Regions from separate parts of the Homo sapiens genome. Here region 2 is linked to region 1. The links come from fine-mapping of genetic effects on gene expression. Tissue or cell type: tibial nerve. Region 1 holds a variant in brackets; the other region holds the start of a gene. All regions are shown on one strand. Distances are between the middles of the regions.

What was found. PIP is the estimated chance that this variant, and not a neighbour inherited with it, causes the effect.
Region 2: it holds the start of GPRC5B, and the variant in region 1 is fine-mapped to the expression of GPRC5B in tibial nerve (GTEx, PIP above 0.99).

The regions. Positions count from the first base shown.
Region 1 is chr16:19,609,123-19,617,122 of GRCh38, forward strand. It overlaps VPS35L (VPS35 endosomal protein sorting factor like), which reads left to right. Exons shown (of 31, transcript NM_020314.7): 12 at 1,200-1,293; 13 at 6,992-7,069; 14 at 7,564-7,686. Among named protein-coding and RNA genes, the nearest start is that of VPS35L, 57 kb to the left of the region's middle. RefSeq lists an enhancer at 100-1,299. The variant G/T (reference allele first, on the strand shown) is at 4,944.
Region 2 is chr16:19,880,276-19,888,275 of GRCh38, forward strand. GPRC5B (G protein-coupled receptor class C group 5 member B) reads right to left here and starts at 4,573. Exons shown (of 4, transcript NM_016235.3): 1 at 4,452-4,573. RefSeq lists enhancers at 1-393, 394-1,123, 1,124-1,855, 1,856-2,585, 2,586-3,316 and a silencer at 4,832-5,126.

The sequences.
Region 1 (8,000 bases):
TACTTAATGTGTGTTAAGCACCTTCTGTTCTTTTTCTCATTGAATCCAAATGAAAACTGAATGAAGTAGAGACACCATCCTAATCCCCATATTAGAGAGAGGAAAACTCAAGCCTGGAGAAGTTGGTTAAGGAGGTCATGGAAGATCAGCTCAACTGGATTTGAATCTTGGCTGTACTGGTACTAGCTGTATGGTCTTGAACAAGTTACTTACAGCCTCAGAACCTCTGGCTCCCTCTCCTGGGAACATGACCCTAAGAAGAGGTCTGAGGGGGTCCTTTGGGTCACACATGCAACAATGAGAGTCACCCCTGGCACACGGTGGGCCCATCCTCCATGTTGGCTGCTGTTGATGATGATGATGATGAAAATGACGTCAGAAGCAGAAGCCTTTGCCCTTAGTGGCTTAGGTCCATGCCACTCAATTTATCACAATGTTTTGAGAGTAGTTACAGGACGTGGGGGACCCAGATCTGCTTTCTGCAGAGCAGGTGAAATGCTGAGTCATGTTAGATAGCTAGATAATAAATTCCTTGAAGCCCGGGAGTGACTGATTCATGGTGCTCCACAGATAGCTCTACCGATTGGATTTAGAATTTATCTCAAGTGTGTTGGATTTGGATCTAGGGTTGCCTGGAATAGTTTGGGGGAATAACATGGGGGCTGAAGAAACATTATTTTGCCTCACCAGTTGGAGGAGGATAATGCCTTAGGCAGAGGGAAGACATACGTTGCAGGAGAAATAAATTGTAATTCACATTGTTGGTGGTTGGAGGATGTCAGATGCCAGCCTGAGATTCACGGAAGGAACAGGGTACGGGACAGTAAATCTGTGGCAAACGAAAATACATGTGGAGAGAAGATCAAGGGGTGCCCAGTCGATGGAAAATAATTGAAGACAAAAACTGTTAAAATTAATAAAATAAATGTGACCTCGACTGGGGAAAAAATGTGGTTAGCCTCCACCACTGAGCAAATGATAACGATGAAAGAAATCATTCAATGAATGAATTGTATCAGAAGAGAAAGACTGTTGTTACATTGCCTTAGAAAACTGAAACTTTGACCTTGGTTTGTTACTGAAACTTGATTTTTCCCCCCCTCCCTGAAATTTAGGAAGTCTTTATCTTTATTTAAAAAATTAAAGAACAGCGAGTTCTCACGTCGAATATAATGCTGGCCTGTTTTTGTCTCTTGCAGGGGAATTTCAGAGTGCCTGCCCCGGTTGACATGCATGATCAGAGGGATCGGAGACCCACTAGTGTCGGTGTATGCCCGTGCCTACCTGTGCCGGGTAGGCCATGCGAGTCACTGCCCTTGACGGCACGGCTGCCACCCGTCTCCTTGAATGTTCACACAGGGCCCTCCTTCCCCACCACCCCGCAAGTCATTGAGAGAAGGACTTTATTAGTGGCTAATTTTAGATCATGGCTCTGCCACAGAAAGTAGAACTGTAGGGTTTCTTTTAAAAATTAATTTTAAAGTAGACCAACTTACTGTAGCTCTAATTAGGGGACGTTTAAGGTCATCTTCTTACAAATGAACTGGTTTTCAGAAGTAATTGTTTCTCAGTTCTTGCTGGGAAGGAGGTTCCCAGGGCCTTTGGGCTAACAGGTTGCTTTTCATTGACTTCAAACATGCTCTTCCTTTGTCTTGACTTTGATTGCTTTATTAGTTTTCTGCTTGGCAGGGGAGCAGTGTCCCACATGATGGCAGGCCTCAGGGTCTGTGTGGCCTGGCTTAGGTGGCTGCTGTGAAAGGGGGTAGAGGGACTGATTAGAAATTACTTGCCCATGCCCTGCTTTAAAGCACCGTGAGGCTTCAGCTAAGCTATTAAGTTTTTTGTGTATGGAAAAAATGTAACCAATGGAGGTTATATGGTCTTTCTTTTTTTTGGAGATGGAGTCTTACTGTGTCGCCCAGGCTGGAGTGCAGTGGCGCCATCTCGGCTCATTTCAACCTCCACCGCCTGGGTTCAAATGATTCTCCTGTCTCAGCCTCCTGGGTAGCTGAGATTACAGGTGTCCGCCACCATGCCCGTCTAAGTTTTGTATATTTAGTAGAGATGGGGTTTCACCATGTTGGCCAGGCTGGTCTCGAACTCCTGACCTCAAGTGATCTGCCCACGTTGGCCTCCCAAAGTGCTGGGATTACAGGCGTGAGCCACTGCGCCCGGCCAGTATATGGTCTCTCCATAGTTTTCTTCAGCTCACACAGGGGCTTTGCCTCTGTCAGGACTCCCCCTAGCAACGAGAATCTTCCCTATCGTCCCATCAGTATTGCACATCCTTAGAGAGGGATCATTGCACCTGATAAGCCCCAGACTTCCTTGAGGACAAAGCTGCAGTTAGAGCCTCCCCCATGAGTTTGCACCTTATTAAATCAGAAGGCGAGAACATGTAGCCTGTGATTTGCCTCTTCTGCATGACAGCCAGCAAATGTCGGAAGCCCTGTGGTCTCTCAAGTTTCACGAAAAACTAAGTCAGTGCCCTCAGAGTGAGGAGCAGATATCCATTAGGAAGGGCACTTTTTATAGGTCTGTTTCTTGATACTGAGAATGAAAGAAAAAGCCTTTCGTTTAAGGGCATCCTCTTCCCTCTTTGCAGCAGAGGCCAAAGTGTGTATGCATCGCCCACTGCTTGAAACCTGGGGGGGATTTTCCATCCAGAGATATCAGGTGTGTTTCCAAGGACAACTTTTGAATATATTAAAGCTTGAATACTCCTCCCAAGTCAGTGTTTGCTGAGGCCCTACTGTGCACAGAACACAATGCCACATCCTCTGGGAGAGATGCAAAGATATTGTTTGCATATTTCTTTTTCCTTTTTTTTTTTTTGAGATGGAGTCTCACTCTGTCGCCCGGCTGGAGTGCAGTGGTGTGATCTCAGCTCGCTCTAACCTCTGCCTCCAGGGTTCAAGCAATTCTTCTGCTGCAGCCTCCCGAGTAGCTGGGACTCCAGGTGTGCGCTACCACGCCCAGCTAATTTTCGTATTTTTAGTAGAGACGGGGTTTCACCATGTTGGCCATGATGGTCTCAATCTCTTGACCTCATGATCCGCCTGCCCCGGCCTCTCAAAGTGCTGGGTTTGCAGGCATGAGCCACTGCACCCGGCCTTTTTTTGTTTTGTTTTGTTTTGTTTTGTTTTTTTGCACCAGAGTCTCACTCTGTTGCCCAGGCTGGAGTGCAGTGGTGCAATCTCAGCTCACTGCAACCTCTGCCTCCTGGGTTCAAGCGATTCTCATGTCTCAGCCTCCGGAGTAGCTGGGATTACAGGCACCTGCCACCATGCCCAGCTACTTTTTGTATTTTTAGTAGTGACAGGGTGTCACCATGTTGGCTAGGCTGGTCTTGAACTCCTCACTTCAGGTAATCTGCCTTCCCCGGCCTCACAAATTGCTGGGATTACAGGTGTGAGCCCCCGTGCCCAGCCTTGTTTATGTATTTCTTCTCTGCTGCCTTTTACCTTGTAGAACATAGCAAATGCTTTGAACACACCTTGACATCATTTGAATAAGGCCTGATATCGGAGACCCGGTGATAAAGACTTAGAATCATGCTGTCTCTTCTGCAAATAATTCTGGTTATTAAAGAGAAATCAGAATGTGGGGAAGTATGTATTTTTTGCAAGCCTGTTCCCTTTTAATGTTTGAGATCAGGTATGTGAGTTAGGGTACACGATCATGTTTGTTACATATAAAGTGCCTTTGAATGGCAGATGCAACTTGAAACACAGTGACAATGAGGAGAAGATGCAGAGGACAGAGCAGACCCCCCACAAGATTGGTAGTAGAGTGCCCTGCGTCTGTTGAAATCATTTTTGTCAGTCCAGGCAATGCATTGATTCCGCTGGTTGGGTAGTTTCTAAAAGTCTCTTTAACATTAAAAGAGTAAGAGAGACCAAGCGCGGTGGCTCATGCCTGTAATCCCAGCATTTTGGGAGGCCGAGGCGGGCAGATCACTTGAGGTCAGGAGTTCAAGACCAACCTGGCCAACATGGCAAAAACCTGTCTCTACTAAAAAATACAAAAAATTAGCCGGGCGTGGTGGTACACGCCTGTAGTCCCAGCTACTCGGAAGGCTGAGGCACGAGAATCACTTGAACCCAGGAGGCAGAGGTTGCAGTGAGCCAAGATCGCGCCACTGCACTCCAGCCTGGGTGACAGAGCAAGACTGCCTCAAACAAACAAACAAAAAGAGACAGCCTGTGTATTAGTAAGATTTCTTTCAGTTCCAAGTGGCAAAACCCAGTTCATACTACTTTAAGCAAAAGTAAGAACTTACTGGCCAGTGTCTGGAGAGGCCAGGGTTAGTGCAGGCATGGCTGGATGCAGGCCCTCAAAGGGTGCTGTCAAGAATCAGCCTCTCCCCACATCACTCAGCTCTGCTGTTCTTTGAGTTGGCTTCATTCTGTGGCTTGCTTTTTTTATATGATGGCCCATAGCGGCCTCTGGCTTCCATCCTACCACCTTAGGAACCTTATTGGAAAGTGTGTCTTCTTGCCAGTAGATCTAGCCAGAGCCTCAGGGCTGATTCTTGGTGGATTACCTCGGGTTGTTTGTCCACCCCTAGACTAGTCACGTGGCCATGGGTTGGGGTCTGGGGTTGGTGTCTGGGTACTTACTGACTGGGTCACATGCCCTTGCATGGAGCTCAGGGTGAGGTGGATCTAGCTCCACCACAAACCTCATGGTCCAAGAGGAAGGTTTGATTCCCCAGAGACAAATCTAATTTGCCGATACCAGCAATGGGGGGGATGAATGCTGGGCAGGCCGAAACAGCAGATGGGAATCATGAGCAATACCCTTGCTGCTCTGGGTAGAAATCTTTTAGACCCAAGCAGATATCCAAGCTGCTCATTTGGCCCGATGAGAAGAGAAAAACAGAAAACAAAAGCTCTGAGTGGGTAGAGCGTGGGGGGAGCTTGAAGCTGTTATTAAAGGAA[G/T]GTATGATTAACTCCTAACTCACAGCCGCTTCAGCTCATCTCCATGGCTCAGCCACCAGGCCAGCCTTTGCTGTCACCTAACAGATAATTATTGTCTTTTCTACAATATGATTAAGTGGAAGGAGAATCAGAACACTGTAGAACTGGATCTGATATTTCTTGTTAGCATATATATATATATTTAATCTATGTGCTTGTCCTTGAAAACAGCACTTCCTGTACCCAGCAATCACAGAGCTGCTCTTGGAATTTAACACCCTGGTGGTTCTCAAATGCCATCTGAAAAACATTATTAGTGTTACCCATCATGACCTCTGGGTAGTGGAAGGTGAATGGGAGAAATCTCTCCCCATTTGAAGAAATAGGGAACCAGTCTCACTTTGTTGCCCAGGCTGGAGTGCAGTGGCACAATCTTGCTCACTGCAACCACCACCTCCCGGGTTCAAGCGATCCTCCCACCTCAACCTCCCAGGTAGCTGGGTCTACAGGCGTGCGCCACCACACCCGGCTAATTTTTGTGTTTTTAGTACAGAAAGAGTTTCACCATGTTGACCAGGCTGGTCTCAAACTCCTAACCTCAAGTGATTGGCCCACCTGGGCCTCCCAAAGTGCTGGGATTACAGGTGTGAGCCACTGCAGCCCAGCCTACGAAGTTGTTTTTGCGGTTAAGCAGCAATTTGGAAACGAAGCATTTCTGAGGAGCTCAGTTTAAGAAACACTGTGATGTTGTGTTTTAAACCTATGAACTCCCCTCCGTAGCTCATCCCTCTACTTTTCCATCTAACCCCAGTACTGGCACCTTCTCTATGATTAGTAAATTTCTTCAGCTAGAAATGTTACAGTCTGTTTTTTAACAATGAAGTCAGGACCCAGTGGATTATAGCATTGTTACACTTCATGCTCATGTTATATAAAATTGCATAAAATGTATTAAAATTTATGTCTGCTCTTATCTCTGCCTTGCAAAGAATGAATTTGTATAGCTTTTAACTAAGCATGTAACGGGGGCAGCACCACATCTGGAATTCAAGCTGACTTTCTCACGTACCGTAATCTTTGTGCTTGGTCTAATAAGTACAACCCCATGTGTGTTTATCATTTTTTTATTGTATGCACAATCTTGAGAGTACATTCCTTTTTAGTTCTGTATTGATTTGTTCTCTTGGTCGTCTGTTCAGAAATACATTCAATACCTTTGGGGAAGGGCAAAGATGATTTCTGCAAATGTTGCCCTTTTTTATTAAAAATAGCTTCTGTGGTCTTTCTTATAAAAGCAATACATGTTTATTGAAAAAGAAATCAGGCTGGGCGTGGTGGCTCACACCTGTAATCCCAGCACTTTGGTAGGCCGAGGCAGGCAGATCATCTGAGGTCAGGAGTTGGAGACCAGCCCGGCCAACATGGTGAAACCCCGTCTCTACTAAAAATACAAAAATTAGCCAAGTGTCGTGACACATGCCTGTAATCCCTGCTACTTGGGAGGCTGAGGCAGGAGAATTGCTTGAACCTGAGAGGTGGAGGTTGCAGTGAGCCAAGATCGTGCCACTGCACTCCACCCTGGGCAACAGAGCGAGACTCTGTCTCAAAACAAAACAAAAAACAGATAAGGAAAAAAAAAATAGGCCGGGCGCTGTGGCTCACACCTGTAATCCCAGCACTTTGAGAGGCCAGGGTGGGCAGATCATGAGGTCAGAAGATCAAGACCATCCTGGCCAATGTGGTGAAACCCTGTCTCTACTAAAAATACAAAAATCAGCCAGGCCTGGTGACACATGCCTGTAATTCCAGCTACTCGGGAGGCTGAGGCAGGAGAATCCCTTGAACCAGGGAGTCGGTGGTTGCAGTCAGCTGAAATCGCACCCACCGCACTCCAGCCTGGCAACAGAGCGAGACTCCATCTCAAAATAATAATAATAATAATAATAATAATAATTTTCTGGACTTTTTCTGTGTCTATAAACATAGGTATATATATTTTTTAATTTCCAAAAATAAAATCATACTATAGTCATTATTTGCAACCAGTTTTTCCATTTGTCTGGCTGCAGGTGGGAATGGAAGTGGCCCCACATCTCAAAGAAACCCTAAATAAGAACTTTTTTGACTTCCTCCTTACGTTCAAACAGGTAAGAGAACACTATCAGAATAGCTCATCGATATAACAGTTCTATGATAGCAAATTCACAAAACCCAGTTGGTTTTCCAAGTGGAGAATGCCTTAAAGCTCTTTAAATGTGCAAGCCCTGGAAAATTACACTAGCTTCTGTTGTAGACAATTAAAATGTGTTGATTGTACTGAATAAGCGGAGAAAGTTAATATGCATGTGTTAACAGGAAACGTCTCCAGTCGATCAGCCTTGCTTCTGAGCATCTGCTGGCTCCATTTTTATCAGGTTCCTGCTTTCCACAGCGCTCATTCCCAAAACAGCTCGGCTTGGTGACATGAGAAACTTTCTGTGTTTTTTTTTGGTTTAAAAAAAAAAAACAACCGAGAAACCAGGCTATTTCTCTCAGGGCTGTCCACATGCTTACAAGTATGCACAGTCTGTGAGTTGTGTATGTTTTGTTTGTTGTTTGGTTTTTCCCCTCCTTTTCTAAGTGTTTGTTTGGCCTCCTGTAGATTCATGGGGATACGGTCCAGAACCAGCTGGTGGTCCAAGGAGTGGAGCTCCCATCTTACCTCCCCTTGTACCCGCCTGCCATGGACTGGATCTTCCAGTGCATCTCCTACCATGCCCCCGAGGTAACTGCCAGGTGGCTTCAGTGTGACGCTCACCTCCTGTATGGTGACAGCCCCTGCCCACTGTGCCCTTTAACGTTAATGGGACCCTTTCATAACAGCTATAGCAATGTTAGTGCTAGCCAGCCTTTATAGAGGGCTTGCCATGGTGGCTGGCTCTGTGCTGAGTGCTTTTCTGAGATAGTCTCATTTTGACAGCTGTGGAAGGGGAATGTGGTAGCTCCAGAGGCCATGTACCTAAGTGAGGCCACACAGCTAGAAAGCAGTTTGGTGGCTGGGTGTGCTCATATCTGTAATCCCAGCACTTTGCAAGGCCA
Region 2 (8,000 bases), 270 kb after region 1:
GTAACGAGGTGGCTCGCCTAGGTATTTGTCCACCGCTGGTTTCCAAGCTCATGCCTGTAATCCCAGCACTCTGGAAGGCTGAGGTGGGAGACTGCTTGAGGCCAGGAGTTCAAGACCAGCCTGGGCAACATAGCAAGACTCTGTCTCTGTTATAAATAAAATAAAATAAAATAAAATAAAATAAAATAAGAAAAGAATGTGTTGTAATGAGATTACTGGTTTAGGTTTTTGTCCACTGCTGGCTTCTAGCCTCCCCCATCAAACATCAACGAAAGAGGTCCCTGAGGTGGTGTGAAGGGGAGACCCTCTTGGGGTGGTTGGCCCTGGGGACTCCCACACTCTTCTGCAACCTGCAGCAGGTGCTGTAAGTGAGAGCCTCGCTGTGGAGGTAGAACCTAGGCCAGAGGACCTTGGGGTGCCCTGAAACCAGGCATCTCTCTTGCGGAGTCAGACCCAGGACACCCAGAGAGCAGACACCAGCCATTCTCTTGGGAACCAGCATCCTCATCTTCCCTTTCACTCACGGGAAAGGAGACATGAAATGTACAAAACCATTCTAGAACATTCTTACTGGCCTTGCCCCAGCTGCTACCAGCACGGCTCCACCCTGTGTCCCCTCGACCCCAGCCATGTCCCCTCGACCCCAGCCATGTCCCCTCCGAGTGTCTAGCAGGGCAGTGGCATCTTAACCTACCTTCTCTAAAGATGGCGGTAGGCACTGGAACACAGAAGGGAAAGACAAAATGAGCAGGTGGGGTGGGAGTGGATTTCCGAGCCCTGTGCATATTTAATAGTTCAGTGCCCAGTACCCACATGAATACGGGTACACAGTTCACTCTCCCATCAGGCTGAAAGGCCTCAGTGGGAGGCAGGCCAGAAGAGGGGAGTCAGACAGAGCTATATGACACTGGGCATTACTTAACCTCTCTGAACCTCGGTCTCTTCATCTGTAAAATGGGGATAATGATAGCGCTGCCTTACAAGGCTGGTGTGAGAAGTACGTGAAAAATAGTCTGGGCCAGGCGTGATGGCTCATGCCTGTAATCCCAGCACTATGGGAGGCAGGAGATTGCTTGAGGAAGGGAGTTCAAGACCAGCCTGGGCAACGTAGCAAGACTGTCTCTATTATAAATAAATACAACAAGAAAAGAAAAGTCAGGTTTGGTGCCCGACACAGAGGAAGCAACAGCTTTTTAGTGAATTGCTTGTTAAAAAGTCAATCATGGCCAGGCGCGGTGGCTCATGCCTGTAATCCCAGCACTTTAGGAGGCTGGGGTGGGCAGATCACTTGAGGACAGGAGTTTGAAACCAGCCTGGCCAACATGGTGAAACCCTGTCTCTATTACAAATACAAAAATAAGCCGGGCGTGGTGGTGCACACCTGTAATCCCAGATACTTGGGAGGCTGAGGCAGGAGGATCTCTTGAAACCGGGAGGCGGAGTTAGCAGTGAGCCGAGATTGCGCCACTGCACTCCAGCCTGGGCGACAGAGTTAAACTGTCTCAAAAAAGAAAGACAATCATGATTCCCATTTTCCTGTTGCGAAAATGAAGGCAGAGACGTCAGGAAAATTGGCCAGAGGTTCACTGGAATTTACAGGCTGGCCTGGGACTAGCCCCCATTTCTCCCAGCTCCTGACCTCAAGGCGTTTCTGCTGCATCCCTGTTCTGAATCCCTCACGTGTGGCAGAGGCTCAGGATGGGGCTGCAGAGCCAGATCCCCATGCACCCCAGCATCATAGTCTGTCCCAACTCACTCCTGCTGGAGCCTCTGGTCCATTTCCTGCTCTGCAGGATTAAACTGTTACAAGGTTTCCTGACTTCAGACCCGCTCTTTCCCACACCCCCAATTCTCACCCTCTGATATCTTTTCCGAGTTACAGGATCTCATCATCTTCATTTCCCAATGCTGACTAGACCACTGGCCCATTTGAGGGCTCTCAAATTAAAAAATCCTCATAGGTTAGTAAACAGGGTTGCAAGAACACAAGCTCTGTGATCCATGAATATGCAAAGCAGCTCCAGTCCTGTAAATAAAAGCAATCATTGAAATGCAAATTGCATCCTTGGCTGCCCGATCCACAGTGGTTGGTTCCTCTCAGGCTGTAATTCCGAGAAGAAAATGTGACTAAGCGGAACCCCCAGGAAGCTCTGCGAGAAAGTGCTTACGGGGCCGTGGGCTCCGGGGGGCTCCGTTAGAGTGGATAAAAACTGTATGAAAGCAGGGAGTGGATTTTAAAACCTGAGCTGCTCCTCCAGTTGGCTTGCAGTGGCTGGCTAGGCTCAAAGCGGTCCCCCAAGGCTGGACAGAGCCCCTTGGAGGCTCCCAGCGTCTCTCTATCCCCATGGGCAGAATGGAAAGGGGGGCTATTTTCCATTTCCTTGTCAACGTCAGGGGAGCTTCTACAAATCAGATCCCATGGCCTCCCACTCAAAACCCTCCAAGGGTTCACTGGTCCAAACAGAATAAACCCTAAACTCCTTTCCATGACCCAAAAGATCATGATCTGGCTGGTCCCTACCATTCCCCTATCCCCACCCCCAAATCTGCCTACAGCTCCAGCCACAATGGCCTTTGTTCAGTTCCTCTAAGCTCATTCCCACCTCCAAGCTTTTGCAGGCACAGTGCCTTCCTCCTGGTTCAGTCTTCCTCCAAGACCTCCCAGCGGAGGGCCCCTCTTCTAGCTGGGCTCCACTCAAATGTCACTCCCGGAACAGTCATCTCAGGTACATACACCCCTGTCACCTTCTTTTACATCACCCCATCTTATTTTCCTGGCCGTCCTCACCCCAATCGGATTTCATAGCCATTTGCTATGGGTTTGTTTAATGTTTGTCCACTCACTTCCCCAGCCCCGGGAGAGCAGGGGTTTTGTCCGTTTTATACAAGGCACCCAGTTCTGTCCCTGGCACGTTTCTTGAAATAACATATTAATCCAGTAAAGATTCTGAGTTTATCTTTCTAACAAAACTGCCTGTCTTGCTGCCTGTGCCCCCAAATGGCGGCTCCTTCCTCCTGGAATCTCCTTCCCTTCCCAACTCAGCTGACCCCTTTCCAGGCTTAGAGCAGGGAGCAGATAGCAAACTGTTCACTCCACAGTCTTAGATACCAAACTGGCCGGGAGGGCTTCCAAACGACAGATGCCAATTTGCATTCTATTTACATGTCATTTGCATGCAGTTTAACTCAAAGCCTGGATCCTCCGCAAGCCCGAGTCCCCACCGAAGAAACTTCTGAATTAAGAAGGTTCCTTGGCTGAAGTGCCGGGGTTTTTGTGCCAGATCCCTCCCCCACTTCTCTTGTCTTTGCGGGGTCCCCCAGGGCTTTCTGGGCTCTGTTCAGGTGCCCCCCGGCCTGGTGCAGTTGGGCGGCCAATGTGGCGCGTGGGCTGGGGCCCCAGGCGGGGACGCCGCTGCCCGCCACACTCCAGGGGCCTTTGTCCGCGCTCCAAGGAGCCGCCCCCTTAGCGAACGGGGGACGGAAAGGGAGGACTGGCTAGGCCTGGGTGTGACAGAGCAAGGACGGAGGAGTGAACCCGCTGCACGGGGGAGATTTCTGGGGCAAGGTCGTTGGCCCCTTCCCAGGCTGTTCAACCGGCTGCCCGGGGCCAAGGCGGGTGCGGGCTCCTCCCGCGCGCTCCCTTTTCGGCCTAAGCGCTAGGGACCCCGGGATGTGTGGGGTCCTTGTGGGGCTGGAAGCCTGTGTCCCCCAAGGAGAGGGGACCGAGAACAGGTCTAGTCCTTATCTCCAGCCTAGCCGCCTCTTCCAGAGGTCCAAGTGCCCCCTGTCTGGAAGGGAAACGCCACTGCCCCCCCCGCCATTGTATGCAGCCGCCCCCTCCTCCCCACCCCTCCCCGTCATTCGTCCCCAGCCCAGGTCTCAGCTCTGCCATCTCCCACCGCCGTGTCCCCCCCTCCCCTTGCTGAGTAATGCGCACTCAAGCCGGCTGCGGGCTTGACCCCCAGCCCCCGCGACAGGTGCGGCTGTTCACCCCCAAAGTCCAGCCCTTGTGCCCCCGGCTGCGTCTGCCCTGTCCACAGTCAGCCCCCAACGCGGCCCCAGGACCAGCCCGCAGCTCCTCACACATGACGAGTCACTAGGACACGGCTGGGCTCCTTTACCCTCCCAGCTGCCCTTCACCTGTGGTCGCCCCCACACCCTCCTGGGAGACTTGGATCTCTACCTGGTCCGGGCACAGTCTCCCTCCCCCCGTAAAGGTCCCCAGATCCTCCCCTCCCCCGCCCACCCCTCTACGGCTCTGCTCTCGTCGCACCGTGGTTCCCCTCGCCCAGATTCCACATCTCCCCCAGCAATAAACTCCCTGGCTTGGGTTGGGGGGGCGCTTAGAAAAACACAAGAAGCGGACCCCCCAATTCTCCCAAATCCACGGCGGGAAAAGTTTCTGGGGTCCCCACAGCGTCCTCCACTGCATCGGCGCAGCTCGCACTTACCGACCCCCGCGGCCCCGCAGCGCCGACGCTCCAGCTGGCCTTCGGCCCGAGTCACATCTCTGCGGCGCGGCCGCGGCCCCCGCTCCACGCACGCCCGCCTGCGGGTCCAGCTTCACTGCAGCGCCTGCCAGAGTCGCTGCCGCGCGAGGCGCCCCCTGGCCCGGCCCGCGCTGCTGCAGCGGCCGCGGCCCCGCCCCCGCCCCCGCCCCCGGCCGGCCCCGCCCCCGGGCCTCCGAGCCCCACCCCCGGTCCCGCCGGCGGTTCCGCGCGGGGCTAGGCGCCGTCTGCATGCACCCCCGGAGCCCAAGCTCGTAGCTTCTAGCCCGGATCTCAGAGACGATTCCCCCGACCTCGTGCCCCCAATTCGGGGACATTCCCCCCACAACGTCAGTGCGCCCGTAAGCAGTCCAGACGAGCCGGGCAACTCCCCAGGGTAGATCCATTTGCGGGAACACTCCCCTAGCCAATACACTTACCGAGGGAGGTATCGCGACCCAGGGGTCCCAGCGCGGAAGCCTTCCTGCCCCCAGGCCACGCTCCAAGGGGGGTTCATAAGCAGTAACTTCCCCGAAACACACCAGCACCAGGTCCAGGACGCAGAGAGGATCGATCCCGCCCGGTGCCTCTCGAAGTCACCAACGCCCCGGTATACACCTAGGCGCACACACACCGCTAGGCCTCCTCCAGGCAGGTTCCTCCTGGACACACTCTTCTCTCTCCTCACTGCCCAACTCCCAGATGTCGTTGTCCGTTTACGCACACTGGGACCAACACCCGCTTCCTTGGCCCCTCGAAACACACACGTCCAGTCGGTGCACCCCTCACGTGGGTCCCTACGCAGGATCGCCACCACCCCTACCGCACACATCACCCACGTACGCACATGTCCACTGCCCTTCAGGGCTCACACACTCAGCGGCCCGGGCCACTGGCCGTGCGCTCCGCAGACGGTCAGGGCACAGCCCGGACGCGTGTCCGCTGGGCGGCCGTGGGACCTGCTTGAAGGAGGGGTCCGGGGCAGCCGTCTCTGAGTCCCCCTCACCCCGTCCTAGTCCTCAGGCCTCTCCGAGGTCGCATTGCTTCGACCAGGCCTGGGAGCTGCGCTCCGGCACCCCATATGGGGCTGGTTCCCTGGGTGACCTTCAGACCATCAAACCCTGGCAGTCTCAGGTGGCCCCCCGCCAAAGCCAGAAACAGACCTTTGAGCAGCATCCCTTCCCTGCACTCCAGATTCTCAGGGTGAGATTTCCTTTCTCCCTCCGCGGTGCGCCCCCCAATCTCTACCCCCGTCGCCGCAACCATCCCAGCCACATAAGACCAAAAGGGATAGGACGGACCCCTGCTCCCCTCTCCCGGGGGCTGCAGGAAGGGGAGATGCAGAACACCTCCTTCTGGGAATAGTGGCAGCCCCTGATCTTTGGGGACCGTGGCCCTTCCAGATACTCCCATCCCTCCCTGCCAGCCTCCCAGTTCCGGTCCGGTTAGGCCACATCCCCCTTGGGCACGCATCTCTGGGATACCTTTTATTATATTCAAGGGAAAATGGAAAGGAAGAACCATAATGGCAGTTTTTCGCCCCACTCCTGGTTTATTTGCATGGATCCTCAGAGCCCAGAACAGTTCCAGGCACAGTAGGCGCTCATTAAATGTTTGCGGGACGACCCAAAGTGTGTTCCCGCCAGACTGCGCAATTGGAAAGTGGATGGGCACTGTCACCTGGTGGCAGCTCTTGGAACTGACGCCGAGATCCTTTTGTCAACGTGGGCAAGTTCACTTTCGTGAGCCACATGTCCTCAACGTCTGCAAAATGGAGATCTTTTTCATCGCACATGCCTATTGGGGTTGTTGTGAAGGTCTAACACGTGCTAACATATAAAGTGCTTCACGCAGGGTCTGGCATGTGGAAAATCCTTAATATGAGCTGATTAACATTGCAGTTACGGTTATATTCCCTTTCCCACTTGTTTTACAGAGGACCCTGACTGTGATGGTCAGTTTCACTTTGGGTGATGATACCACAGGGAGCACAGAGTGAAAATGAAGGAGGACATTGAGTGGCAGGTGCATTCCTTCCCTCCAAAAAGTTCAAACACCCATGGATGATAATAATAACAATAATAGCTGAGTACATAGTGCTTTCTGTGTGCCAGGAGCTATTCTAAGTGTTTTAAATTCTTTAATTCATTTAATCCTCCCAGTTACCCTTTAGGCCAGAGACTGTTATTCTCCCTGTTTTACAGATGGAGACACTGAGGCCAAGAGGGGTTAAGTACTGCCCCGGGGTTAGACGGTTGGCAAAGACAAAATCCAATCCAGGCCATCTGGCTCTGCAGGCCATATTATCCACCAATGGTTAGACTGGTGTCATTTGCTGTCAGGTCAGACATTGTCACAGAGGAACCTCACCTCCCAGGAGAGTTCACTGGGTCTCCAGCCTTGGAGAGAATGGCTCCAGGAGGTCCAGGGAGCCATGTCAGGCTCTCAAGTGCCCAGTTCACTTTGTCTAATGAAAACCAGTGGCTTCCCTGGCTCTATTCCTCACCTGAGAAATGGTCAGTGCACTGCCCATGGCTTCCCACTGACAAATGTCATGGTATGTGTATTAATTTCATACTGCTATGAAGAAATACCCAAGACTGGGTAATTTATAAAGAAAAAGAGATTTAATGGACTCAAAGCTCCACATGGCTGGGTAGGCCTCACAATCATGGTAGAAGGCAAAAGAGGAGCAAAGTCACGTCTTATATGGTGGCTATATGGTGGCAGGCAAGAGTGCATGTGCAGGGGAACTGCCCTTTATTAAACCATCAGATCTTGTGAGACTTATTCACTATCATGAGAACAGCATGGGAAAAACCCACCCCCATGATTCAATTACCTCCCTCCAGGTCCCTCCCATGACATGTAGGGATTATGGGAGCTACAATTCAAGATGAGATTTGGGTGGGGACACAGCCAAACCATATCAGTGTGTAATTAGATATTTGCATGGCTCTCTGCTTGGTGTCTGTCTCCCCTACAAGACTGTATCTCAGTGCTGTGCCGTCCAATCTACACTGTCTGATAATGGCAGCCGCTAAACATGTGCCCACTAGGCACTTTATATGTGACTTGTATGACTACAGGATTGAACTTTCAGTTTTTGTTTGTTTGTTTTTTTTTAGATGGAGTCACTGTCACCCAGTCTGGAGTACAATGGCGCTATCTCGGCTCACTGCAATCTCCACCTCCTGGGTTCAAGTGATTCTCCTGCCTCAGCCTCCTGAGTAGCTGGGATTACAGGCGTCCACCACCATGCCTGGCTAATTTTCGTATTTTTAGTAGAGATGGGGTTTCACCATGTTGGTCAGTCTGGTCTCGAATTCCCGACCTCAGGTGACCCACCTGCCCAGGCCTCCCCAAGTGCTGGGATTACAGGCGTGAGCCACCGAGCCCGGCCTCAGTTTTATTTATTTTTAATTGATTTAAATTTAGGCTGGACATGCATGATGACTCATGTCTATAATCCAGCACTTTGGGAAACTGAGGTGGGAGGATTTCTTGAGGCCA